Linked DNA regions of Homo sapiens. The protein of the gene in region 5 purifies or fractionates together with the protein of the main gene of each other region. This does not show direct contact. Each region holds a gene or a part of one and is shown on either strand. Other genes may lie near its edges. The genes, in order: ZFHX4, VCPIP1, ZSWIM8, NGLY1, OLFM2, GPATCH8 and USP54.

The links.
Region 1: the proteins of OLFM2 (region 5) and ZFHX4 purify together in Homo sapiens (affinity purification with mass spectrometry; 2 studies listed by BioGRID and IntAct, with this or other methods). This does not show direct contact.
Region 2: the proteins of OLFM2 (region 5) and VCPIP1 purify together in Homo sapiens (affinity purification with mass spectrometry; 2 studies listed by BioGRID and IntAct, with this or other methods). This does not show direct contact.
Region 3: the proteins of OLFM2 (region 5) and ZSWIM8 purify together in Homo sapiens (affinity purification with mass spectrometry; 2 studies listed by BioGRID and IntAct, with this or other methods). This does not show direct contact.
Region 4: the proteins of OLFM2 (region 5) and NGLY1 purify together in Homo sapiens (co-immunoprecipitation; one large-scale study listed by IntAct). This does not show direct contact.
Region 6: the proteins of OLFM2 (region 5) and GPATCH8 purify together in Homo sapiens (affinity purification with mass spectrometry; 2 studies listed by BioGRID and IntAct, with this or other methods). This does not show direct contact.
Region 7: the proteins of OLFM2 (region 5) and USP54 purify together in Homo sapiens (affinity purification with mass spectrometry; 2 studies listed by BioGRID and IntAct, with this or other methods). This does not show direct contact.

The regions. Positions count from the first base shown.
Region 1 is NC_000008.11:76,705,247-76,708,746, forward strand, and holds part of ZFHX4 (zinc finger homeobox protein 4), read left to right. Parts: coding exon 1-1,432; intron 1,433-2,299; coding exon 2,300-2,802; intron 2,803-3,500. UniProt on the Homo sapiens protein: May play a role in neural and muscle differentiation. May be involved in transcriptional regulation.
Region 2 is NC_000008.11:66,629,232-66,632,731, reverse strand, and holds part of VCPIP1 (deubiquitinating protein VCPIP1), read left to right. Parts: 3' UTR 1-3,500. UniProt on the Homo sapiens protein: Deubiquitinating enzyme involved in DNA repair and reassembly of the Golgi apparatus and the endoplasmic reticulum following mitosis. Necessary for VCP-mediated reassembly of Golgi stacks after mitosis.
Region 3 is NC_000010.11:73,795,606-73,798,949, forward strand, and holds part of ZSWIM8 (zinc finger SWIM domain-containing protein 8), read left to right. Parts: coding exon 1-58; intron 59-715; coding exon of another isoform or gene 716-798; intron 799-908; exon of another isoform or gene 909-1,168; coding exon 1,169-1,409; coding exon of another isoform or gene 1,410-1,414; exon of another isoform or gene 1,415-1,507; coding exon 1,508-1,666; exon of another isoform or gene 1,667-1,771; coding exon 1,772-2,000; intron 2,001-2,175; coding exon 2,176-2,465; exon of another isoform or gene 2,466-2,624; coding exon 2,625-2,848; exon of another isoform or gene 2,849-3,344. UniProt on the Homo sapiens protein: Substrate recognition component of a SCF-like E3 ubiquitin-protein ligase complex that promotes target-directed microRNA degradation (TDMD), a process that mediates degradation of microRNAs (miRNAs).
Region 4 is NC_000003.12:25,776,944-25,780,443, forward strand, and holds part of NGLY1 (peptide-N(4)-(N-acetyl-beta-glucosaminyl)asparagine amidase), read right to left. Parts: intron 1,746-3,500; coding exon 1,631-1,745; intron 1-1,630. UniProt on the Homo sapiens protein: Specifically deglycosylates the denatured form of N-linked glycoproteins in the cytoplasm and assists their proteasome-mediated degradation. Cleaves the beta-aspartyl-glucosamine (GlcNAc) of the glycan and the amide side chain of Asn, converting Asn to Asp.
Region 5 is NC_000019.10:9,930,016-9,933,515, reverse strand, and holds part of OLFM2 (noelin-2 isoform 2 precursor), read left to right. Parts: intron 1-3,500. UniProt on the Homo sapiens protein: Involved in transforming growth factor beta (TGF-beta)-induced smooth muscle differentiation.
Region 6 is NC_000017.11:44,430,407-44,433,906, reverse strand, and holds part of GPATCH8 (G patch domain-containing protein 8), read left to right. Parts: intron 1-3,500.
Region 7 is NC_000010.11:73,581,343-73,584,842, reverse strand, and holds part of USP54 (ubiquitin carboxyl-terminal hydrolase 54), read left to right. Parts: intron 1-3,500.

The DNA.
Region 1 (3,500 bases), on a different chromosome or scaffold from region 5:
AGCACCTCGAGCTCAGCAGAGCAGCCGCTGGGGATTACCCAAATGCCAAAGGCTGAAGTGAATCTGGGGGGGCTGTCTAGTTTAGTAGTGAACACCCCAATTACCTCTGTCTCCCTCAGCCACTCATCGTCTGAGTCTAGCAAGATGTCAGAGAGCAAAGACCAAGAGAACAACTGTGAAAGGCCAAAAGAAAGCAACGTTTTACACCCAAACGGGGAGTGCCCTGTCAAAAGTGAACCCACTGAACCGGGAGATGAGGATGAAGAAGATGCGTACTCCAATGAACTTGATGACGAGGAAGTATTAGGTGAACTCACCGATAGTATTGGTAACAAAGATTTCCCTCTCTTAAACCAAAGCATTTCTCCTTTATCATCCAGTGTGCTAAAATTTATTGAAAAGGGTACCTCGTCCTCCTCGGCGACTGTTTCTGATGACACAGAAAAGAAAAAACAGACTGCTGCTGTTAGGGCCAGTGGCAGTGTTGCTAGTAACTATGGCATCAGTGGCAAGGACTTTGCAGACGCAAGTGCCAGTAAAGACAGTGCCACAGCTGCTCATCCAAGTGAAATAGCCCGGGGAGACGAAGACAGTTCAGCCACTCCTCACCAGCATGGCTTTACCCCGAGTACTCCTGGCACACCAGGGCCTGGAGGAGACGGCTCACCGGGCAGTGGCATCGAGTGTCCAAAGTGCGACACTGTGTTGGGGTCTTCGAGGTCTCTTGGTGGTCATATGACTATGATGCACTCGAGGAACTCATGCAAAACCCTCAAATGTCCTAAATGTAACTGGCACTACAAATATCAGCAGACCCTGGAGGCCCATATGAAGGAGAAACACCCTGAGCCGGGTGGCTCTTGTGTTTATTGTAAGACTGGACAGCCTCACCCCAGGCTTGCCCGGGGTGAGAGTTACACGTGTGGCTATAAACCCTTCCGTTGTGAGGTTTGTAACTACTCTACCACTACCAAAGGCAACCTCAGTATTCATATGCAGTCGGACAAGCACCTGAACAATGTTCAGAATCTCCAAAATGGCAATGGTGAGCAGGTGTTTGGCCACTCTGCCCCAGCCCCCAACACCAGCCTCAGTGGCTGCGGAACACCCTCTCCGTCCAAACCCAAACAGAAACCCACCTGGCGGTGTGAAGTTTGTGATTATGAAACCAATGTCGCCAGGAACCTCCGAATTCATATGACCAGCGAAAAGCACATGCATAATATGATGCTTTTGCAGCAGAACATGAAGCAGATCCAGCATAATCTGCACTTGGGCCTCGCCCCGGCGGAAGCAGAGCTTTATCAGTACTACCTAGCCCAGAACATAGGCCTGACCGGAATGAAGCTGGAAAACCCTGCCGACCCTCAGCTGATGATCAATCCATTCCAGCTGGATCCAGCGACAGCAGCGGCTTTGGCACCAGGGCTCGGTTAGTATTTCCTGCTTTTCTGCACTGTTGTTAGTTTCTAATCACATTTTGATTTGGCGTGATGCACCCAGATAAAATGGTGAGTGCCAACAAATTGAGGACAGCTTACTAGAAAGGACTTTCTCTTTAAGCTGGATAATCAAACCATTTGCTCTTCTGCTTCAAAGCGAAATTAACTTCAGAGAAGAAAGAGTTAAGGGATCAATGGCGGCATCAGCGAAGTTAGCAAACTTTGTCTTCATTCAGTAAGTTGATTAACAAAAGCTAATTTGCATTAATTGCCTGCCATCATTAGCCATACCTTACAAGGTTTATAGTTTCAATTTTGGTGATTATTCGCTAACATATCAAACGAGCTTTAAAAGGGTATAGCATTATTTTGAATTAAATATATTTAAGAAATATTTTAATGGCTGTGATCCAAGATAATTAATCTAACAATAATACCATTACCTTATCCCAGGTATTTGGCAGTAGATTACAGGCACGCATACAATATTAGCCAAATCTCATCAAGCTTTAAGACAAATTGGGAAATAACAATTAGTGCTTATGTAAGTTTATCTAGGCTCTTAAATTGAAAGCACGTGACTGTTTTGTTATGGTATTGATCAACTTTCTTGCCCTCGAAAATACAAATTTCAGAATGACATCATGCCCAGTAGGAGTAATTAAAGCTATCTGATGAGGGAATTTAGAAGTTGAAAGGGATGATTGTAATTGATCCTGATTGAATCCTATTACAGCTTTTTATAGTTTAAGCTCTAGAGAAAGCACATTCCTTGTCAAGACTTTATTTTACAGATTCCTTTGTGTGTGCTGTGTTTTCTAGTCTCTATTTTTCCTTTTAATTTTTTTTTCCTGTAGTAAATAATGAGCTGCCGCCTGAAATCCGGCTTGCCAGTGGTCAGCTAATGGGTGATGACCTGTCCCTCCTTACTGCAGGAGAGCTGTCACCTTATATCAGTGACCCAGCGCTGAAGCTATTCCAGTGTGCTGTTTGCAACAAATTCACCTCTGACAGCCTGGAGGCCCTAAGTGTGCATGTGAGCAGTGAGCGCTCTCTCCCTGAAGAGGAATGGAGGGCAGTAATTGGAGATATCTACCAGTGCAAGCTCTGCAACTACAACACTCAGCTCAAAGCCAACTTCCAGCTACACTGCAAGACTGATAAACATATGCAGAAATATCAACTGGTGGCTCACATTAAAGAAGGGGGCAAAAGCAATGAGTGGAGGTTGAAGTGTATTGCCATTGGCAACCCTGTTCACCTAAAATGTAACGCCTGTGACTATTACACCAACAGTGTGGATAAATTACGCTTGCATACCACCAATCACAGGCACGAGGCGGCCCTGAAGCTCTACAAGGTAAGCAGTGACATCCATTTCCGTTGGCACAGAGTAGAAAAGGGAATTAACTCTTTCAGAGCTTGGAGCACAAGTCTCCAACTTAAGGAAAAAAAAAGAGAAAAAACATCAAAGGGCAGGGGGCACAGTTTCTGATTAACATTATAAAAACATATTGAAATATATGGAATTGAAGGCTTTATTTATAAAGTTTTACCCTATGTCTCACTTACACCTGTCTCAGTGGCATTTATTTCTTCACTGGCTTCCCCAAAATAAAAGAATTTGGGGGATAGTGTTATATATAAAATAATACTTTTTAAACCTATTGATTTTTTTTTTTTTTGAACCTAGCACCACTCTTGGCTAAATGTAAATGGTTACAGGGAGCAGAAGACAAAATCAGTGCCTAACCTTGTGAATGCATAATATTTTGTTTGGTGACAAACAATGACGCTCCAAACATAATGTTTGTTTCTTTGTTTTCTTGTGTGTGCTCAGTAGCACTGAGTAAACACACTCTCCCTTAGCATCCTTGGAAGTCTCTAAAAGTAAATTCTGTTGTTATTTTGTATGACTGTCTTCCTATCAATATTTTCCTCCTAAATGGGTGTGGTATAGATAAATATGCTTATTTATACAATGCTTTATACAATGGCAAATATACTTTTATCTTTACTTGGAAGACTGTGCACATGTACTGAATACGTGCAAGTGAT
Region 2 (3,500 bases), on a different chromosome or scaffold from region 5:
CACTAACCACTATAATTATTTTTGGCTTTTTCAGCCACTGGAACTTTTTTTGGGGGGATTTAAATACAGGAAAACTGTTTAAGCAAAAAATGCACTGCTTTCATGTAAAATGATATAATCTTCTTTAACAAATATTTTCTTCATTGATAACTGACAGATATCTCATAGCATTAACATAAAATACCAGAAACAAACTTTATCTCCCTATTCTTACATTTAGTGCAAATTGGAATGCGTATGTGAATGTTAGAAGATGGACTTAATCTCTGACAACTTTATTAATTTCTCTAGCTACAGCAATGCTATTTAAAAGCCAGTTAGGTATGAATAGTACAGTAATAGTTTGGGTTCTCCCTTGATAAATGAATAAAAGGCTCAATTCTGATAAGTGATCAAATTTCTTGAAATTCTTTCAAATCAGCTGAAAATTTGGTTGGGGTGAATTGATGGTTTTTGAGAAGTAGGCCAGGTATCCTCACAAAGAAGTTTTAGAATAGGGTTTCTTTTAAGTTTTTAAATATCATCCTTTGTCTTTCCATATGGTTTTCATAACCAAATACATGACTATAGCATGGTTATTTTTCTAGTACTGCCATTTGTGATATAGCCACATCTTGGCGTGCAAGCTAGACATCTCAGGTAAATTTGTTTTTTTTTTTTTTTTTAGCCCTAGAGGTAACATTATAACTAAAATGCATTCCTGCAATTCTGTTTGCAGTGCTTCACTAAACATTGAAATAAAGTTGTAAATTTTTTCTTCAGTAATCCATTTTATAGTTAATCATACCAAATTTAAGTTGATGACCTAAAGTCCAGGTAGTGTTGAAGATAGTATGTATCTAGAATACTGGTAATGAGAAATTGTTGTAAATTGAAGAAAACAAGATGCTGCCATATATTAAGATAGAATATAATTAACTCCATGAGAATGGTTACTCAGGAACTAGTTAAAGAGCAAACCCATTTCTCCCGCTTCACTCTGTTTCAGATATTTTTATTGGAAAATGTTAGGGTAGAGGCCTGAGAAAGTTAGCAAATGCTATTGACTGATACTGGCTCTGTGTCTTCCAGTGATTTTTAGTTTGGTTTTTACAGTCAAGCCTACTGCTTGCAATTAAGATATCAATCTGAAATGCATCTGTAATTCCTGGCCACAGGTCCTTATTGCCATTATTTTTAAGTATCTTCATTGGAGATGAACACTGACTTTTGCATATGGTCTCTTACCTCAGGGAAGATCACTTGCTAGCAACTCATACTACTAATGACAGGTTTTTGAGAATTGTACTGACATCACATGTTAGCTACTAAATGCAAAATGTATAAAAGTATTGTTTTATGTAGTTACCTACCAATACTATCTGCTACTGAATAACTCTCTAAATATGTAGACCTCACTAATAACTAACCTTTAGGTAAAAAATTTACTTCTGTCATTAATTACACTTCAACTGGTCAATATAGTGGCAGCATAAAGTGTTTATTTCAGAATATCAATACAGTTTTGTCTTCATTTTTCAACAGTAATTTCAATTGGTTCATACTTAAAATACTACACAGATTTTGAGTTTTATGGTTCTCAAAGCAAGGTTTCCATCTTAAGATTTTTATAAACACAAAGCCTTTGCAAAATTGGATTAAATTCCACCTATCTTAATGTGAATTAAAAACCACCATTTATAATAATAATAGCGCCATATTCTAAGTTGAGTAAATGCATCCTACCATTCAAGGTTATCATATAATTTAACAAAATTGTACAACCTTAAGGCTCTTCACAGTATAAATTAATTTTTCAAACCAGAGCTGTTCACATGAAAATATTCCTTAGTAGAATGTATATTTAAGAAATAAAACAACAAAGGGGAACTATATCACCCATGTAAGTTATAGAGTTAATTACAAGTTCTACCATTCTTGATAATTCTTTGAGATGCTAAGTGTTTCAGTTCATATTTAATGATACTTAAATCGTGGGAATTTTAATGTTTGTTCCAAAATAGCAGAAATTGTAAAAATTATGAATTATTGGAGAAAATGCCATTACTTGTATATCTGACATTTAATTTTTTAATTATGGAGACTACATGCTTTTGTAGTATAATATTAATGATTATTCTCTTGTAAAAGAAAAGGAAAAATTAGTAAAGAAAAAAGTTTTAGTTGATGTTACCTGCTTGTGAGTATCAATTACTTAGTTTTTAAATTTTTAAGGTATTGCCTACTTTTCTTTAGAATGCAGAAATCTCGTCCTGAGCCCTTATTATGCCTGTGGTAGAGCAATGCAAGACTGAAAAGGTTGCCAGTATTTTCAGGCTTATTTGACTAAGAATTAGTGCCAAGAACTGGAAAGTCTACTTTTTGGAGGGAAATGATACTTAGAATTTGTAAACATAAGCAGTAATAGTGTAAATATTTAGAAAAATAGCAAGTGCTTTAACTGCTCAATAAAATAGTATAGATGTTATTTCACCCTTAAGGCACTGGCTGTTGCCCATTATTTTCCGATTTCGTGATTACTGTATATATTACATTTGAGTAATGAATAATTGGTAATAGTGTATTATAGTGTTCTACAGCACACCTTACTGTACAGTATTTGAAGTTTTCTTTTATATCAATAATAAAACTATAAGTTAATACTGATTTTCCCCTGAAATTCTCCACATTAGCTTTTAAAGGTAATTTTATGTTCTTTAGTTTCCTGGAATTATAATGCATGAACATATAGTTCAGTTTTATAAAGAAATTCTTAAATAATAAAGTTTTCTTGTTGAACTTAAGCGGGTTATCGTACAGGAATAGTGATTTTTCCCCTTAATGTAGATTTCATTGCTAGATGAAATGGACCCAGTGAAAAAAGAGTGCGCAATTTAAAAAAAAACCAAAACGGTCTCACTCTGCTGCCCATGCTGGATTGCCGTGGCATGATCAGGGCTCACTGCAGCCTCAACCTCCTGGGCTCAAGTGATCCTCCCACCTCAGCCTCCTGAATAGCTGGGACTACAGGCATGTGCCACCACACCTGGCTAATTTTTGTATTTTTTGTAGAGATAGGGTTTTGCCATGTTGCCCAGGCCGGTCTTGAACCCCTGAGCTCAAGTGATCTGCCCTCCTCTGCCTCTTTAAGTGCTGGGATTACAGGCGTGAGCCACCGCACCCTGCCAGCAAAATTTCTTTAGACATATTACATAATTGGGCCATAATGCTTACTGAATATTTAAAAATGAAGGCAAATTCTAACAGAGAACTTGATTTTGTGGTGGTTTAAAAAAATACTGGTTAGTGATAAGGAAATGAAAGGAAATACAGATAATAGTACTAAATAACGTTTGTGTAGCTTAGCAGTCAACACGTTTACTTCCAAGTTTTATTGTATATGCTTAATATACATTTTATTAGATCATTTAACTCAATAATTTAGAGTATAGCCTTAGACACCAGACTGCCTAGGTCTGACTCCTGGTACGCTGCTTTCTGTGACCTCTCTGTGCATTCCT
Region 3 (3,344 bases), on a different chromosome or scaffold from region 5:
TGACCTGGCATTAGCACTAATGATCACTTACAAGGACGACCAGGCCAAGCTTAAGAAGGTAAGAGACTGGGGCTGGGTGCGGTGGCTCATGCCTGTAATCCCAGCAGTTTGGGAGGCAGAGGCGGGCAGATGGCTTGAGCCCAGGAGTTTGAGACAAGCCTGGGCAACATGGCGAAACCCCGTCTCTACCAAAAAATACAAAAAATTAGCAGCTGGGTGTGGTGGCACATGCCTGTAGTCCCAGCTACTCGGGAGGCTGAGGTGGGAGGATTGCTTGAACCCAGTAGGCAGAGGTTGCAATGAGCTGGGTTCACGCCACTGCACTCCAGCCTGGGTGACAGAGCAAGACCCTGTTTCAAAAAAAAAAAAAAAAAAAAAAGGCAAGGTACTGGGGCCTTTGACAGGCAGAGAAAGAGAGCACATTTTACTACCTTTCTCAGGGAGTTTCCAGTACAATGAGAAAAGTGCTATTTTAGGCTGGGTGCAGTGGCTCATGCCTGTAATCTCAGCACTTTGGGAAGCAGAGGCGGGAGGATCGTTTGAGACCAACCTGGCCAACATAGTGAGACCCTGTCTCTACAAAAAATTAGAAAATTAGCCGGGCATGGTGGCGCGCGCCTGTAGTCCCAGCTACTCGGGAGGCTGAGGTGGGAGAATTGCTTGAGCCCAGGAGTTTGAGGCTACAGTGAGCTATAATCATACCACTGCACTCCAGCCTGGGCAACAGAGCGAGACCCTGTCTCTTAAAAAAAAAAGAAGAAGAAGAAAAAAAGAAAAGTGCTCTTCTGCCCATAGGAGGTAAGTAGGGAATCTTGGGGACATCTCATAAAGAATAAGAGAAGACCAATGGTTCTTATAGGAGTGCTTGGGCATGGGGTGGAAGAAGAGAAGCAGAGGGCATAAAGTCATTCATTCACTTATTTCAGTATTTATTGACTATCAGTATATTCTGCCCTGTGGTGTTAATGGAGGATACCAAGATATGTTGGGGTTAAATAAGTTACAAAAAGACATGTAAACCAGGAGGTCATCCTGTGGTTGTAAGTGGGGAAGGCTCCCTGAGGATGTAGCAATTGGCTGTTTCAAGGAGAAAGGAAGGTAATAGAAGTCAGGAGCTAAAGGGCATCCTGTCACTGCTTCTCTGGAGGTCACTGCTTCTGTCTTCCAGATCTTAGACAAACTCTTGGACCGAGAGAGCCAGACACATAAGCCACAGACGCTGAGTTCTTTCTACTCATCTAGCCGCCCAACCACAGCCAGCCAGAGGTCTCCTTCAAAGCACGGGGGCCCATCTGCCCCAGGGGCCCTGCAACCACTGACCTCAGGCTCTGCAGGGCCTGCTCAACCAGGGAGTGTGGCAGGGGCTGGGCCAGGCCCCACTGAGGGCTTCACAGAGAAGAATGTGCCTGGTGAGGTGGGGGCACTGGGCAGGGGGGATGAATGGTGTGGACCTATGTTGAGGTCCCCTTTCCTGGGCTCATCCCAGCGTCCTGTTTTCCTCACCTAGAGAGTTCCCCACATTCCCCCTGTGAGGGTCTTCCATCTGAGGCAGCTTTGACCCCAAGGCCAGAAGGGAAGGTTCCTAGCCGCTTGGCACTTGGCAGTCGTGGAGGCTATAATGGACGGGGATGGGGGTCCCCAGGACGGCCTAAGAAGAAGCACACAGGTAGGATAGCCTGTGGGCTAGCATAGAGGGAAGGATAATCCTGAAGGTTGGAGTCTTAACATCTGGGACTCCTGACTTCTGAGACTGACTTCTCTTGGGGGTTAGGCATGGCCAGCATTGACAGCAGTGCCCCTGAAACAACATCGGATAGTTCCCCCACCTTAAGCCGGAGACCACTTCGAGGGGGCTGGGCCCCCACCTCCTGGGGTCGAGGTCAGGACAGTGACAGCATTAGCAGCTCTTCTTCGGACTCCCTGGGCTCCTCATCCTCCAGTGGAAGTCGCCGGGCCAGTGCCAGTGGAGGAGCCCGGGCGAAGACTGTTGAAGTTGGCAGGTCAGTGGGAAGAACTCCCCATCTTCCCTGATCTGGCCCACCCTCAGAGCCACACCCCTAGTGCAATCCAACCATTGTCTCCCAGCATCCTCACTTTCCCTGGTCCTTCCCAACCTACCCGGATGCCCATTTCAAAGAAACCCCAACCCCCGTCCCTACCCCATTGCCCCTTCAGGTACAAGGGCCGCCGCCCCGAGAGTCATGCCCCTCATGTACCCAATCAGCCATCAGAGGCAGCTGCACACTTCTACTTCGAGCTGGCGAAGACAGTGCTGATCAAGGCAGGGGGCAACAGCAGCACTTCCATTTTCACACATCCATCTTCCTCAGGGGGCCACCAGGGTCCTCACCGCAACCTGCACCTTTGCGCCTTCGAGATTGGGCTTTATGCCCTTGGCCTGCACAACTTTGTTTCTCCCAACTGGCTCTCACGTACTTATTCTTCCCACGTTTCCTGGATTACAGGTAAATCATTTGACCTGACTTGGGTATGGGAGGGGGATTAATTGGTGGGGATAAGACCCTTATCTTTGTGGGGTTACTGATCTGATAAAAAGACATTATTCTCACACCCCAGTGGTGCCCACACTAACCCAACTCTGCCCTTCTCTCCTTTCCCCTAAGGCCAGGCCATGGAGATAGGCAGCGCAGCCCTGACTATACTGGTAGAATGCTGGGATGGGCACCTGACACCCCCTGAGGTTGCATCCCTGGCTGACAGGGCATCACGGGCAAGAGACTCCAATATGGTGAGGGCGGCAGCAGAGCTGGCCCTGAGCTGCCTGCCTCACGCCCATGCATTGAACCCTAATGAGATCCAGCGGGCCCTGGTGCAGTGCAAGGAACAGGTATTTCTACGGGCAATCTGGGAACCTCTTCTGGGGCATCTGGGCAGGGAGGTTGGGCATGGGAAAGCTAAGGGCCCAGCTCTTGATTCCCGTATCCTGGAGTTTACAGATGATTGTTGGTCCTCTCATGGCAACATTTTACCCATTAATGTGCTTTCACACCCATCTTTCCTTTACCTTACAACTCAAAGGTTAGGTTTATTTCTATTTTACAGATAAGGAAATGGAGGCCTACGGTTTAGGGACCAAGATGATCACTCAGGATAGAAAACTTAGGGAAGGCCTCATACATCTAAGACTTGAATGGGAGGGGGCTGTTAAATTAGTTTGGAACTGGGACTATAACCTGGGTCTTGACTCATTTTGGTCAGTATTTACTCAGTGTGTGAAGCACTCACTGCTCTGATAATGGACTCTAAGCATTGACACTGACCTCTGATGATTCCCTGGGAATGAGACAGCTCTGAGGGAGACATTGGAATCTCATCTAACACCT
Region 4 (3,500 bases), on a different chromosome or scaffold from region 5:
TCATGGACTTTATACAAACCACTACCATTTCTTATTTAGACTAATGTAATAAGCTTTCTAACCGGTCTCCCTGCTTCATCCCTTGTCCCCATCCCACCACCTCCAGGAATTCTCTTTACAGCAAGCTAGAATAATCTTCAAAAATATTTTTCCCTACTTAAAACTTTCCAGGCTGGGCACGGCGGCTCACGCCTGTAATCCCAATACTTTGGGAGGCCAAGGCGGGCGGATCGCCTGAGGTCAAGAGTTCGAGACCAACCTGACCAACATGGAGAAATCCCATCTCTACTAAAAATACAAAATTAGCCAGGCGTGCTGTCGTATGCCTTTAATCCCAGCTACTCAGGAGGCTGAGGCAGGAGAATCGCTTGAATCCAGGAGGCGAAGGTTGTGGTAAGCTGAGATTGCATCACCGCACTCCAGCCTGGGCAACAAGAGCGAAACTCCATCTCAAAAAAAAAAAAAAAAAAAAAAATTCCCAGTGGCTTCTCATCTCACTTAAAATAAAGTCTAAGTCTTTTGCCACATTCCTCAAGACCCCATGTGTCCTGGTCTCTGCCTCCCTATGCAGCTTATTTCTGTTTCACGGTTACTTCTGCTGGAAATCCTTTACACACATTAATCCTTCTGCCTGAAACACTCTTACCTGAGAGTTTCAGGTACCTGAGATGTTTCAAGTCACAGCTCAAATGTCATCTCCTCAGAGAGGACTTCCCTGACCACTGCCTGCCATGCAAAGTACTTTTTATTCTATTACCTGGTCTTATTTTCTTCTTTGCACTCATCTTGTTTTCACATCTACTGGCTGTTTAACCTACTAGAATGTAAGCTCTATGTGAGGTGGGATTATATCTACTACTTTGTTCACTACTGTTACTTCAGGGCCTGAAATGGAACCTGGGGAGGGAAGCAGAGAGGCATGAAGAAAAGTGAATCTTACATAGCAGCTCAGCATATCTCTTTAACAACTTCTACAATTGCCTATTCTGACGACCACTGACTATTGAGTCTCTGTAACTTGTTCAAGTTCTTTCAATGCTCTACAAAGGAGAACTAGTTAAGGATATAAACATAAAGAAAATTCAGAATCTTAATAACTACTTTCGATGTGTCATAAAATTAAACTACACCACAAGATTCCAAAAGATAACACCAAAATATTCATTTGAAGTAAAAACAAAAAAAAATACTGAGACTCCTCTCCTGTCACAGAAGAAACCCCTTCTGTGTGGCAGCTCAACTCAGTTTTTCTGTTTACTTCAGACTCTTTTCATTTCCTACTACAGACAGGTAGCTAGACTCTATTAGTATTCATGTGTGCTCACAAATCAGGTTTTAGCTAAAAGCCTAAAGTGAACCACATTTGGTCCTTGGGTTGCATGTATGACCCTTATTTTAAAGAACTGAGACTCGTAAGAATTTCTCTGTGGAGCGTTGTTACATTTTACTGAAATTTTAAACTATACTTGTTGTGATTTTTAAATGTCCAATCAATGAAGAAATAACTACTTCTACTGATTCCCAAAATGATAAATTAAAAAACATTATCTTATTCAAACAATTATTCACCAACATGATAATGGCTGCTTTGTGCATGAAGAGGGGAGAGGAAATCCTTGAACATACTTACCTCTTCAAAGCCCATTTCAAATAAACATTCAACAGCTCCTCTGACAGGCAAGAGTCTAGTAGAAAAGGCTGTGTTTCCAATCCGGATGGATCTATATTTTTCATCATTAGGGTTTCTGACAAAAAACAAAAGTTTGATTATATATAAAAAAAACCAGGTCATAGTTCTTCAAAGACTTTACTTTCAACAAACATGACCTAGGTATACCTTTATAGTCACCTGATTTTCTTTCTTCCCTAAACCAATGGTTGTTTTTACTATAAGTAAAAACAGTAAATTACATTCTGTGCTGTTAAGGTACATTTTTTTTTTTTGAGATGGGGGGGGTCTCGCTTCAGTTTAAGATACATTCTTTTTTTTTTTTTTTTTTTTTTTTTTTGAGAGAGGGGTCTTGCTCTGTTTCCCAAGCTGGAGTGCAGTGGCGTGACCTCGGCTCACTACAGCCTCCACCTCCCAGGTTCAAGCAATTCTCCCACCTCAGCCTCCCAAGTAGCTAGGATTACAGGGGTGCACCACCACTCCTGGCTAATTTTGCATTTTTTAAGTAGAGACAGGGTTTCACCATGTCGACCAGGCTGGTCTCGAACTCTCGACCTCAGGTGATCCACCCGCCTCAGCCTCCCAAAGTGCTGGGGATTACAGGCGTGAGCCACCGCACCTGGCCCAAGACATATTCTTGACACAGACAGTATGGCAATAAAAGGAAGACATAAATTTCTTTTACCATAATTAAGATTTTGAATAGTACACTTGGGACAAGTAACCAGCACATGAAAAGTTTTGGTTTGAGATTTTTAATTACTTTGATAAATCAGAATTGTTTAAAAAAAATTAAAAGAATGTAAGGTTAAGCTAATCATAGTATTATATTCAAAAGACCCTCAGAACATAGTTTAGGATGATAAGTTTCATACCTGACACCAACTGCCTTAAAGTGATAGTGACTTCTTTAAGTACTATGTTAAGGAGGATTCTGAGGCAGTATCTGGGATCCATAGGAAGATGTACTTCCATAAGAAGCCACCTGCCCTGGGGTATGATATGGTGAGTAGGCAAATGCTAGCAAATGACTTATCAACTTTGTCCTATCTACACATGTTCTCTAGGTATTCTGACGTAAAAACAAAACCAAAAACCAAATATTTTAATTTTATAAGTTTTAACAAATTTTGCATTTGTTTTTCACCAGTCAATTGCCTATTGGCCAAAGTGTCATAAATACTAAATGAATGTTTTTAAACTTTTCCCTAATTTCAAAAATCATGTTTATTACAGAATATTCAGAGACAAATGCTCTATTTTTTTTGCTATTCAAAATGTCCACAGATTGGTGCTAATCTACAAATTATTTGTTACCCATACACAAGTAGTACAGAAATTTTTTCTTTGTTTGTTTACAAGTGCATAAAAATGAAGCAAGAAGTAGAGAAATTGAATGTTCGGTATACAGCAATTTGATATTGCCATGAAATTTTCAGTGTATTTTACAAAAGTTATAGGTCCATAAGGGATTGGAAATTAAAACAAAAACATTGTTCTTTACTATATGTAATTTGAGAATCACAGATGGTTGTGAAATACAAAGAAAATTTTATTCTCAACTCTTTATTCTGTGTATTAGATTAGGGTTTCTCAGTCTCAGCACCATTAACATGTGGGGCCTTTTCTCAGTGGAGTTTCCTTGTGCACTGCAGAACATTCGCATTCCTGGCTTCCATGCTACACTGTCTCACAAGTGAGCCTCTCTTTCTTATCACTTAAGAAAACTGAACTATAAAATAATCCTACATTTATCAAAGCTAGTTTTCGATAAATGGGGCATCTTTTCCTGACACTCAATGTATTTCACAGGGTGATAAACATGTCAGTA
Region 5 (3,500 bases):
CTGTAATCCCAGCACTTTGGGAGGCCAGGGTGAGTGGATCACTTGAGGTCAGGAGTTTGAGACCAGCCCGGCCAACATGGTGAAACCCCGTCTCTACTAAAAATGCAAAAAATTAGCCAGGTGTGGTGTTGCACACCTGTAGTCCCAGCTATTCAGGAGGCTGAGGCAGGCGAATTGCTTGAACCTGGGAGGCAGAGGTTCCAGTGAGCCAAGGTCATGCCACTGCACTCCAGCCTAGGCAACAGAACAAGACTGTCTCAAAGCAAAAAAACAGAAAAAGATTACAAGGTGGGGGCTATTTGAGCCAGTGTGGTCAGGGAAGGTGTCTCTAAGGAAGTAGTGTTTCAGGTGACATCTGAAGGAGGTGAGAGAGGGAGCCTTGTGGGTGTCTGGGGGAAGAGCATTGAAGGTGGGAGGAACAGAAGGTGCAAAGGCCCTGGGGTAAGAACAAGCTTGGTGAGTTTCAGAAGCAGTGTGGACGCTGGTGTGGCTGGAGAGGTCGCGGGGAGATGAGGCCGGGGAAGCCAGACCACTTAGGAACTTGTAAGCTGTGGGCAGAAGTTTGGATTTGACCCAGAGAGCAGGAGAACAGGAAAGCAGGGCCTGTCAGAGGCATTGTCCATTCATCCAGGATCTATCCAAGATGTTCTGGGTTCTGGCCTGGGAGTGACTACCAGAGAGCTTGACAGTTCTGAGCCCCACTATTTTCCTTGTGGAAAAGATGCCTTCCTGATCCCTGCGAAGGCCTCCCTAAGATCTAGCTACATCGTTGGCACTATCTGGGTTTGGGACCAACTCTTTCCTGGGGCTTTCAGAGGATGGGGAGAAGGAATAATTCAGTTTAGATCACGTGCCTCAGGGACTTCACACTTGCTGTTCCCTCTGCCTGTGACACTGTTCCCCCTGGTAGCTATTTATCTCTGATTTCTGCTTAAATGTCACCTCCTCCAAGAGGCTCACCCTGAACAGCTAAGTGAAATAGCCCCCTGCTGCCACTCTCTGAGTGCTTACTCCGTGTTCTTTTTCTTTCTCTCTCTTTCTTTCTTTTTTTTTTTTTTTTTGAGACTGAGTCTCACTCTGTTGCCTGGGCTGGAGTGCAGTGGCGCAATCTCGGCTCACTGCAAGCTTTGCCTCACCGGTTCAAGTGATTCTCGTGCCTCAGCCTCCCGAGTAGCTGGGACTACAGGCACGTGCCACCTGATGCCCAGCTAGTTTTTGTTGTATTTTTAGTAGAGACAGGGTTTCACCATGTTGGCCAGGCTGGTCTTGAACTCCTGACCTCAGGTGATCTGCCGCCCAAAGTGCTGGGATTATAGGCATGAGCCACCACGCCCGGCCATATTTTTCTTTATAGCCCTCGTTTCCACATTTCTATGATTCTTCTATTCATTCATTCTCTGTTTCCCCACTAGAGCGGCAGTTTATCAGGGTTCAGCTAGCTTTGTTGTTTCTCCAGTGTCTAGAGCAGAGCCTGACACACAGTAGGTGCTCAAGAAATATCTGCTGAATGGATGAATGGATGGATGGATGGACCCCCTCACACACACAGAGTGTCTTTCTTTCTCAAACCACAGGATTCTTTTATCAAGAGAGTGTCAGGGGAACACTCGCTCCTGGATGGAAGGCACCAAGAAAATCCATTCTTCAGGCCAGGTGTGATGGCTGATACCTATGATCCCAGCATTTTGGGAGACCAAAGCCAGAGGGTCTCTTGAGGCCAGGAATTTGAGACCAGCCTGGGCAATACAGCAAGATCCCATCTCTACAATAACTTTTTCTTTTTATTTCTTTTTTTTTTTTTATTTTTGAGATGGAGTCTTGTTCTGTCACCCATGCTGGAGTACAGTACAGTATTGTGATGATCTCAGCTCACTGCAACCTCTGCCTCCCGGGCTCAAGAGATTCTAGTGCCTCAGCCTCCCGAGTAGCTGGGACTACAGGGGCGTGCCACCACACCCAGCTAATTTTTGTATTTTTAGTAGAGATGGGGTTTCACCATTTTGGCCAGGCTGGTCTCGAACTCCTGACATCTTGATTTGTCTGCCTCGGCCTCCTAAACTGCTGGGATTACAGGCGTGAGCCACCGTGCCCGGCCTCTGCAGTAACTTTAAAAAAAATTGGCCAGGCTTGTAGTTCTACTCAGGAGGCTGAGGTGTGAAGATCACTTGAGCCCAGGAGTTTGAGGCTGCAGTGAGCTATCATTGCACTACTGCACTCCAGCTTGGGCGACAGACTGAGACCCTGTCTCCACAAAAAAGAAAGAAAGAAAACCCATCTTCTTTACCTGTGCCTGACATTCCACCGATAGGGCACTGTTGTTTAGGGGTAAGACGATGTTCTCCTGGGGCTCCTTTAGAGCATGTAAATGTCCCAGTGGAGGGAAGTAAAAGGAAATTTAAAGACTCCGAGTTAGTGTAGGAAAGAGCCCCTTGGGGCTGGATTTAAGATTATGGAGCTTGAGCGACATCTAGTGGTCGAGTGAGGTTTGTGCAGGGACTGTGTGCGTCTGTGTGACTGGTGGGTGAATGTGTGTGGTTGTGCACCTGTGCGTGGGCGCGTGCGTATGTGGGATGGGGGTGCCCAGGTCAGGGTAAAACAGGTGAGATACTCGCCGCGGGTGCAAACATTTTAAAAAGTTGATGATGATGATGATGATGATATTTGAAACAGAGTCTTGCTGTGTCGTCCACACTGGAGTGCAGTGGTGCGATTTCGGCTCACTGCAATCTCTGCCTCCCGGGTTCAAGCGATTCTCCTGCTCAGCCTCTCGAGTAGCTGGGATTATAGGCGCACAGCACCACAGCCGGCTAAATTTTTTTTTTTTTGTATTTTTAATAGAGACAGGGTTTCACCACGTTGCCCACTCTGGTCTCGAACTCCAGACCTCAGATGATCTGCCCGCCTTGGCCTCCCAAAGTGCTGGGATTACAGGCGTGAGCCACGGTGCCGGGCCTATTTCTAAGACGGGGTCTTGTTCTGTCACCCATGCTGGAGTGCAGTGGTGCAGTCATAGCTCACTGAAGCCTCCAACTCCTGGGCTCAAGTGATTCTTCTGCCTCAGCCTCCTGAGTAGCTAGGGTGACAGGTACATGGTACAGAGTTCAGCTATAGTACAAAATTTAAGGGTATGCCCCCCAAAAAAATAAAAACCAGTAACCAAGATAAATAATATTTTAATGGAACATTTTAAGAAAAATCTAAATTGATGCAAGAAAAATCTATAATGAATAAAAACAAATTTTTAAATAAATATGGGCTCCCCCTCTGCACTTGCATAACTTGCCTCACTCTAACTTTGGCCCCATAGGCATGTGTCTGTGGTGTCATGCGTGTATGTGTATGTTTGGTGACTGTGTGCATGTTCAGGGACCATGAGCACAGGGACATGCTTGTATCATCATCACACCAGTGACTGTATCCATGTAGGCCAACCATATGGTATGTGTGGATTTCTTTCTTTCTTTCTTTTTTTTTTTGAGATGGAGTTTCGCTCTTGTTGC
Region 6 (3,500 bases), on a different chromosome or scaffold from region 5:
TCGGCCTCCCAAAGTGTGGGGATTACAGGCGTGAGCCACTGCGCCTGGCATACTCTTTCTTCTTTAAAACATTTTCATTACTCTTGGTTTTGAAGAATTTATACTTTCCTAGATTAGTTGCTTCTTATCTGTCTTGCTGCTTCTATGTAGATTCCTTTGTTGGCTGCTGTTTATTCTGCCTGAACTTCAGATATTGGAGTTCCTCAGCTTCAGACCTGGGCCCTCTTTTTCTGGCTACATTCTTTCTCTAGGCACAAGAGTGGTCATGACACCATGTTTCATCATCTTTCACTTGGTTAAATTTTCTCCTTTGGGTTTTAGCTTAAATATTACCTCATTATAGATCTTCCCTAATCAACTCATTTAAATAATTAACCACTCTGCCTTATTCTCTTGCAACAACCTCTCTTACAATTTGTAATTATAAATTTTTATTCACTAATTTATATTCTGCTTTCTGTACTAGTCAGAAAGGGCATTGAGGAGAGAGAGTATGTCTATTTGTCTGCCAGTATATATCCTGCATCCAGCACAGTGTGTGGTGCATAAGTACTCAATAAATATTAGTTGAATGAATAAATATTTTGAAATAGTGAGAAAAGCCAGATTCATTTTATGTACTGTCTGAAATATAAACATTATAAAGAATACATTTTTATTTTTCAAGTAAAAGTTACACTGTCGAGTGAAAAATAAATGAAATACCTCAGTAATTCACAGCCTCATAAGATTATACATAGTATCTTGAGATGCTCTCTCCCTGGTAATAGAATTATTTCTCGGCTGGGTGCGGTGGATCACGGCTGTGCTTTGGGAGGATTGCTTGAGCCCAGGAGTTTGAGAGCAGTCTGGGCAATGTAGCAAGAATCTGTCTCTACAAAAAGAAAAAAGAAAAAAAATAGCTAGGTGTTGGTGGTGCATGCCTATAAATCCCAGCTACTTAGAGAAGCTGAATTGGGAGGATCACTTGGGCCCAGGAGTTGAAGACAGCAGTGACCTATGATCACACCACTGCACTCCAGCCTGGGCAAGAGCAAGAATTACTTTCCCCATCTTATTGATCAAAATATTTACTCCGAAACCCTGTCAACTCTGAACTACACTGTTTCTAAAATCTTAAATGTCCTATTATCTGACCATGGTCTTTTTTCCTTCCTGCTGTCACTCCTTTATTCTCCTATATTTTTTCTTCAACTTCACATGACTTTGGAAGCTTTAGTAACTTAGCTCCTCCTTAATTTGTACTTTTCCCCTCTAGCACCACACACTCATGTTTACCTCTCACAGCACTTTGATTCCAACTCCCTTTCCTCCTAGTCCTTTTGTCATACATACTCACCAAAAGCCTGTCCCGTTAGTACAAAATGCATTACTTGCATTCTTTATTTCTATACCCTTTCTGCCAACCTCACTGGGCCCTCAGAGCTGCCAATTAATCCTCTCATGTGTCATGTCCCTCTTAGTCCTCTCAGCTGTCATTCTCAAACATTGGTACTCAGCCTTCATCTTTCCTTAACTACCCTTGTCGTATCTCTGCCTTCCCGTATGTTTTTAGTTAAGAAAGAGAATTTGGACCATCAGGTAGTAATGCCTTCATCTACGTATACTATCCTACATCAAACGAGGGTTCACCTGCTCTCATACTTCAATATTTCTCTTTTGTTTCACCATCTGTTAAATGATAATTTGTACATACATCTGAATTCTGGATCCTAACTCTCCCTGTCTTATCAAAGACCTTCCACTTCTTTCCTGTATTGGCAACCTTTCTCTTTATTTGTTCTTTTCCTATCAACAGTAAACATACTTGAAGATTTGTTGGGAGAGGGAATCCTAAAATTAAAAAAAAAAAAAAAAAACCCACTCTGATTTACTCTCCATATAGCTACCACCTTCTCTTTTCACTTGTCTTTAGAACCAGAATTCTTAGTCACTACTCTGACTGCTTCCTTTTCATCACTCTCTCATCTCTAATTTTATAGAGATGGGATCTCACTCTGTCGTCCATGCTGGAGTTCTGTGGTGCTATCGTAGCTCACTACAGCCTTAAACTCCTGGGCTCATACAATCCTCCCACCTCAGCCTCCCAAGTAACCAAGACTATAGGCGTGCACCACCATGCCTGGCTAATTTTTTTTTTAAGAGATAGGGTCTCACTATGTTGCCCAGGCTGGTCTCAAACTCCTGACTTCAAATGATCCCCCTACCTCAGCCTCCCATTTTTATTTTTTAATTTTCATTTTTATCAAAGTTTTACTTGTATATAGTCTTAGAGCCAAATAGCTCTACCAGACTTTTAAAAGAAAAAACAAAAACTGCAGTCTCATTTGACATTCTTGTTATTTTATTAAATATTTTTAATATGTGAGATATAAAGAAAAACTATAAACACTTAGGTATTTTCTACTCAATTTAAGAAAAAGAGCACTATCAGTAACTTCATGATCCCATCACATTTCTGTCTCCTTTAGAGATAAACACTATGCTGATTTTTGTGTTTTTCGCCTTTTTTTTTTTTTTTTTTTTTTCCTTTTTGAGACAGTCTTGTTCTGTCACCCAGGCTGGAGTGCAATGGCAGAATCTCAGCTCACTGCAACCTTTGCCTCCTGGTTTCAAGCAATTCTCCTGCCCCAGCCTCCTGAGTAGCTGGGATTACAGGTGTGCACCATCACACCCAGCGAATTATTTTGGTATTTTTAGTGGAGACAGGGTTCTGTCATGTTGGCCAGGCTGGTCTAGAACTCCTGACCTCAAGTGATCCGCCTGCCTCAGCCTCCCAAAATGCTGGGATTACAGGCGTGAGCCACTGTGCCTGGCCCCCTCACAATTTTGTAGGTAAAATTGTTGTTGAGATAAAATTCACATAACATAAATTTACCATTTTAGTCATTTTATAGCAATACTACAATTTAATGATTTTTAGCTTATTTACAGTGTTGTAAAATTATCACCACTGTGGCCAGTGCGGTGGCTCACACCTGTAATCCCAGCACTTTGGGAGGCCAAGGTGGGCGGGTCACTTGAGGTCAGGAGTTCCAGACCAGCCTGGCCAAAATGGTGAAACCCCTTCCCTACTAAAAATACAAAAAAAAAAAAAAAAGCTGGGCGTGGTGTTGTGTGCCTGTAATCCGAGCTACTCAGGAGGCTGAGGCAGGAGAATCGCTTGAACCCAGGAGGCGGAGGTTGCAGTGAGCCAAGATCGCACCACTGCACTCCAGCCTGGGCGACAGACAGAGTGAGACTCTATCTCAAAAAAAAAAATGCAACAGTGAACATTCCTGTCGTCTTTCTGATCTTTATAGAGAAGCTTTCAGTCTTTCACCATTATGATGTTAGCTGGGGGTTTTTTGTTCTCATCAGGTTGAGGAAGTGCCTAATTTCTAGAAATTCCTGCTTTGTTTAGTGTTTTTACCATGAAAGAGAGTATTGGGTTTTGTCAAATGCTTATTTTGCATCTACTGAGATAACCTTGTGGGTTTTTTCCTTTTATATTCTGTTAA
Region 7 (3,500 bases), on a different chromosome or scaffold from region 5:
GTTTCTAAATAGGAAATAGTTACCAATTATTAACCAGCTTTCATATTGTTAGGATATTACGGGTCTCAATGGTCGGTTATCTCTGGTCTCAAGTCCTTTCACTCTATTTTTAGGGAAAATGTGTTTAAACCCCTATTTTAAGGAAATGATAGTTTATAGATTATTTATAAATTATAGTTAATTTAGAAAATAGAAAAAAGGAAAAAAATCCATAATTTCATCATCCTAACAAGACCGCTATCATTTTACATTTACTTACCCCGATGTTGCTGAGTTTTAAACTTCTCTGTTAATTCATTCTGCGCACATTTAGCTCTGAGAAACAGGTTTCTGAACTAATAAAACACCCAATAATTGCCATACTGTGATATTAAACAGTAAACCAAGAGGTTTCACATATAACCCTCAGTGGATTGTAGGATCACAAACTACGTCAACGTCTCTTCTTTTTTTTTTGAGACAAAGTCTCACTCCATTGCCAGGCTGGAGTGCAGTGGCGTGATCTTGGCTCACTGCAACCTCCGACTCCCTGGTTCAAGCAATTCTCCTGCCTCAGCCTCCCGAGTAGCTGGGATTACAGGCACATGCCACCACGCCCGGCTAATTTTTGTATTTTTAGTACAGATGGGGTTTCACTATGTTGGCCAGACTGGTCTCGAGCTCCTGACCTCGTGATCTGTCCGCCTCGGCCTCCCAAAGTGTTGGCATTACAGGCGTGAGCCACTGTGCCCGTTCACATCTCTTCTTTTCCTATAAATCAATCTTGGTCCATCTACCTTTAGACATATAAATATTTATTTCCCAAATGCCTCAATCCCTTTTGGGCCCAAAGTTCCATCTTCTTCAGTGAATTATTTGCATAATTTAAAATGTTTTTTATTTTGAATTTATAGAAAAGTTGGAAAAATAGTTACCTCTAATGATACCATCTTATATAACCATAATACATTTATCAGAACCAGGAATTAATAGTATTGGTATAACACTATTAACTAAAGAGCTTTCCTGAATTTCACCAGTTTGCCTACCATTATTATTTTTCCTTTTTTATTTTCAGTTTTTTTAAATTGTAATTTATTTTTTTTTTATTTTTAAAGACAGGGTCTTGCTTTGTCACCCTGGCTGGAGTGCAGTGGCACAGTCATAGCTCACTACAGGCTTGAATTTCCAGGCTCAAAAAGTCCTCCTGCCTCACCCTTCTGAGTAGCTGGGACTACAGGCAAGCATTAGCCTGGCTAATTAAAAAAAATTTTTTTTGGCCAGGTGCAGTGGCTCACGCCTGTAATCCCAGCACTTTGGGAGGCTGAGGCGGGCGGATCACCCGAGGTCAGCAGTTTGAGACCAGCCTGGCCAACATAGTGAAACCCCATCTTTACTGAAAATACAAAAATTAGCTGGGCGTGGTGGCAGGCGCCTGTAATCCCAGCTACTCCAGAGGCTGAGGCAGGAGGATTGCTTGAACCCAGGTGACTGAGGTTGCAGTAAGCCAAGATCGCGCCATTTTACTCCAGCCTGGGTGACAAGTGAGAAACTTTGTTTCAAAAAAAAATTTTCTTTGTTTTGTAGAGACAGGGTTTCGCCATCTTGCACAAGCTGCATTGTTCTTTTTCTGTTCCAGGATCCTATCTGGAATCTCACATTGCATTTTAGGTGTTTTTCTTCCTTACTCTTCTGTATTCTGTAAAAGTTTCTTAGTCTTTCTTTGTCTTTTATAACCTTGACATTTTTGTAGAGTATTGATCAATATCAGTTTGAGGGCTATTTGTCAAATATTCCTTAATTTGGATTTGTCTGATATTTTTCTGATGATTGGACTGAGATTATGGTTTAGGCAAGAATACCACAGAAATAATTGTGTCCTTTTCAGTGCATCATATCATGGCATTCATGATGTCAATATGTATTATTACTGGTTATTTTGACCTTGATCACTTGGTTAAGGTAGTTTCTGCTGGGTTTCTCCATTGTGAAACTACTATATTTTCCTTTGTAGTTAATAAATGCCTTAGTGGAGATACTTTGATACTGTCATTTTTATTAATGTCATGGAGTTCTCTACACATGCAATTAATAGTGTCTCCTTAAAGACTTTATTGAACTTTAGTTACTGTGAAGTCAATTAGCTTAAAGAGTCCATCTCCTTGGATGGGCGCAGTGGTTCACGCCTGTGCCACCGCATGGTTCACAACTTTGGGAGGCCGAGGTGGGTGGATCACTTGAGGCCAGGAGTTCAAGACCAGCCTGGCCAACATGGCGAAACTCTGTCTCTACTAAAAGTACAAAAATAGCCAGGCATGGTGGCGCATGCCTGTAATCCCAGCTACTCGGGAGGCTGAGGTAGGAGAATTGCTTGAACCCGGGAGGTGGAGGTGGCTGTTGCAGTGAGCCAAGATCGCATCACTGCACTCCAGCCTGGGTGACAGAGCGAGACTCTGTCTCAAAAAAAAAAAAAAGTCCTTCTCCTTAGAAACTTCCCACACTTTACACCTGGTTTTATCAAAGGGTTCCCAGGCTTTGCACGAACAAATTCTATCTAGTCTTCATTGATTTCAGTTCCATTCTAGCTCTGCTCATAATGAATCTCTTATGCTAATAACCTGTAGCTCTCTGGGCCTCATTTACCCCTCTGTCTCTTAGGGCGCCAGGCTCCTCCTGGCCCAGTGTCCTTCCAGGCCTCATCTCCCTTTATGCACAAGCCAGTTCCTTTGAATGACTGCTTTGGGTTTTTTCCGAAACAGGCTGAGAGAAGCTGACTTTGTTGGTGAAGAATACAGTGGGGGATAATTAGGGTGGCTGCAGCTGGAGCCTGGTTTATTACTTTGGCCTGAGAAAAATGGTAGCACATTAAGCTGTACTGTGTATACTTGTGAAAGAATCATTCTCTGTATTTCACTAATACAGAGAAAGTGTTTTTTTCTAAAGGTCACCAGCTTCTAGAGGTATGTCTTTAATTCTGGCAACCTTAATCTGTAATGATCTTTTCAATTTAGCCCTGTTGACTGTGGAGTTACTTGCTGTGAGCACAAGAATCCAAAATCCAAATGTGGACCAAATATTATATTTAGATCTATTTAGTTCAAACAAATTTTATACAGTGAATAACATTAGATGTTTCTTTGATTAATAAAATACAAATTTATTAGTATTACTGAATTCAAAGTAGCTTTTTGAATTATGTATTTTCTCAAGTGACATATACTATAAAAGCCCCATTTATGTAATGTGGATGGGGCAGACTTAGATTCTCTGACACTTGAAGCTTATGCAATTCAGAGGGCCTCCTTTAAGGAAAATATTTTTTGAAACAGAAAATGAGATATTGGGCCTTGAGAATCTGTGCAAGAGAAAGAGTCCTGAAGCTTAAGTTTCAGTGGCTTGGTAAATCTGCCTCTGGATGTGAGGCACTGCAAAAAGGTTGAGACCCACTGTTTTCCATCATTTCATACATGGAAAGGTTTTTGGCTTACCCACAGGAGGCTAGTGTTTTCAGATTGGGAACA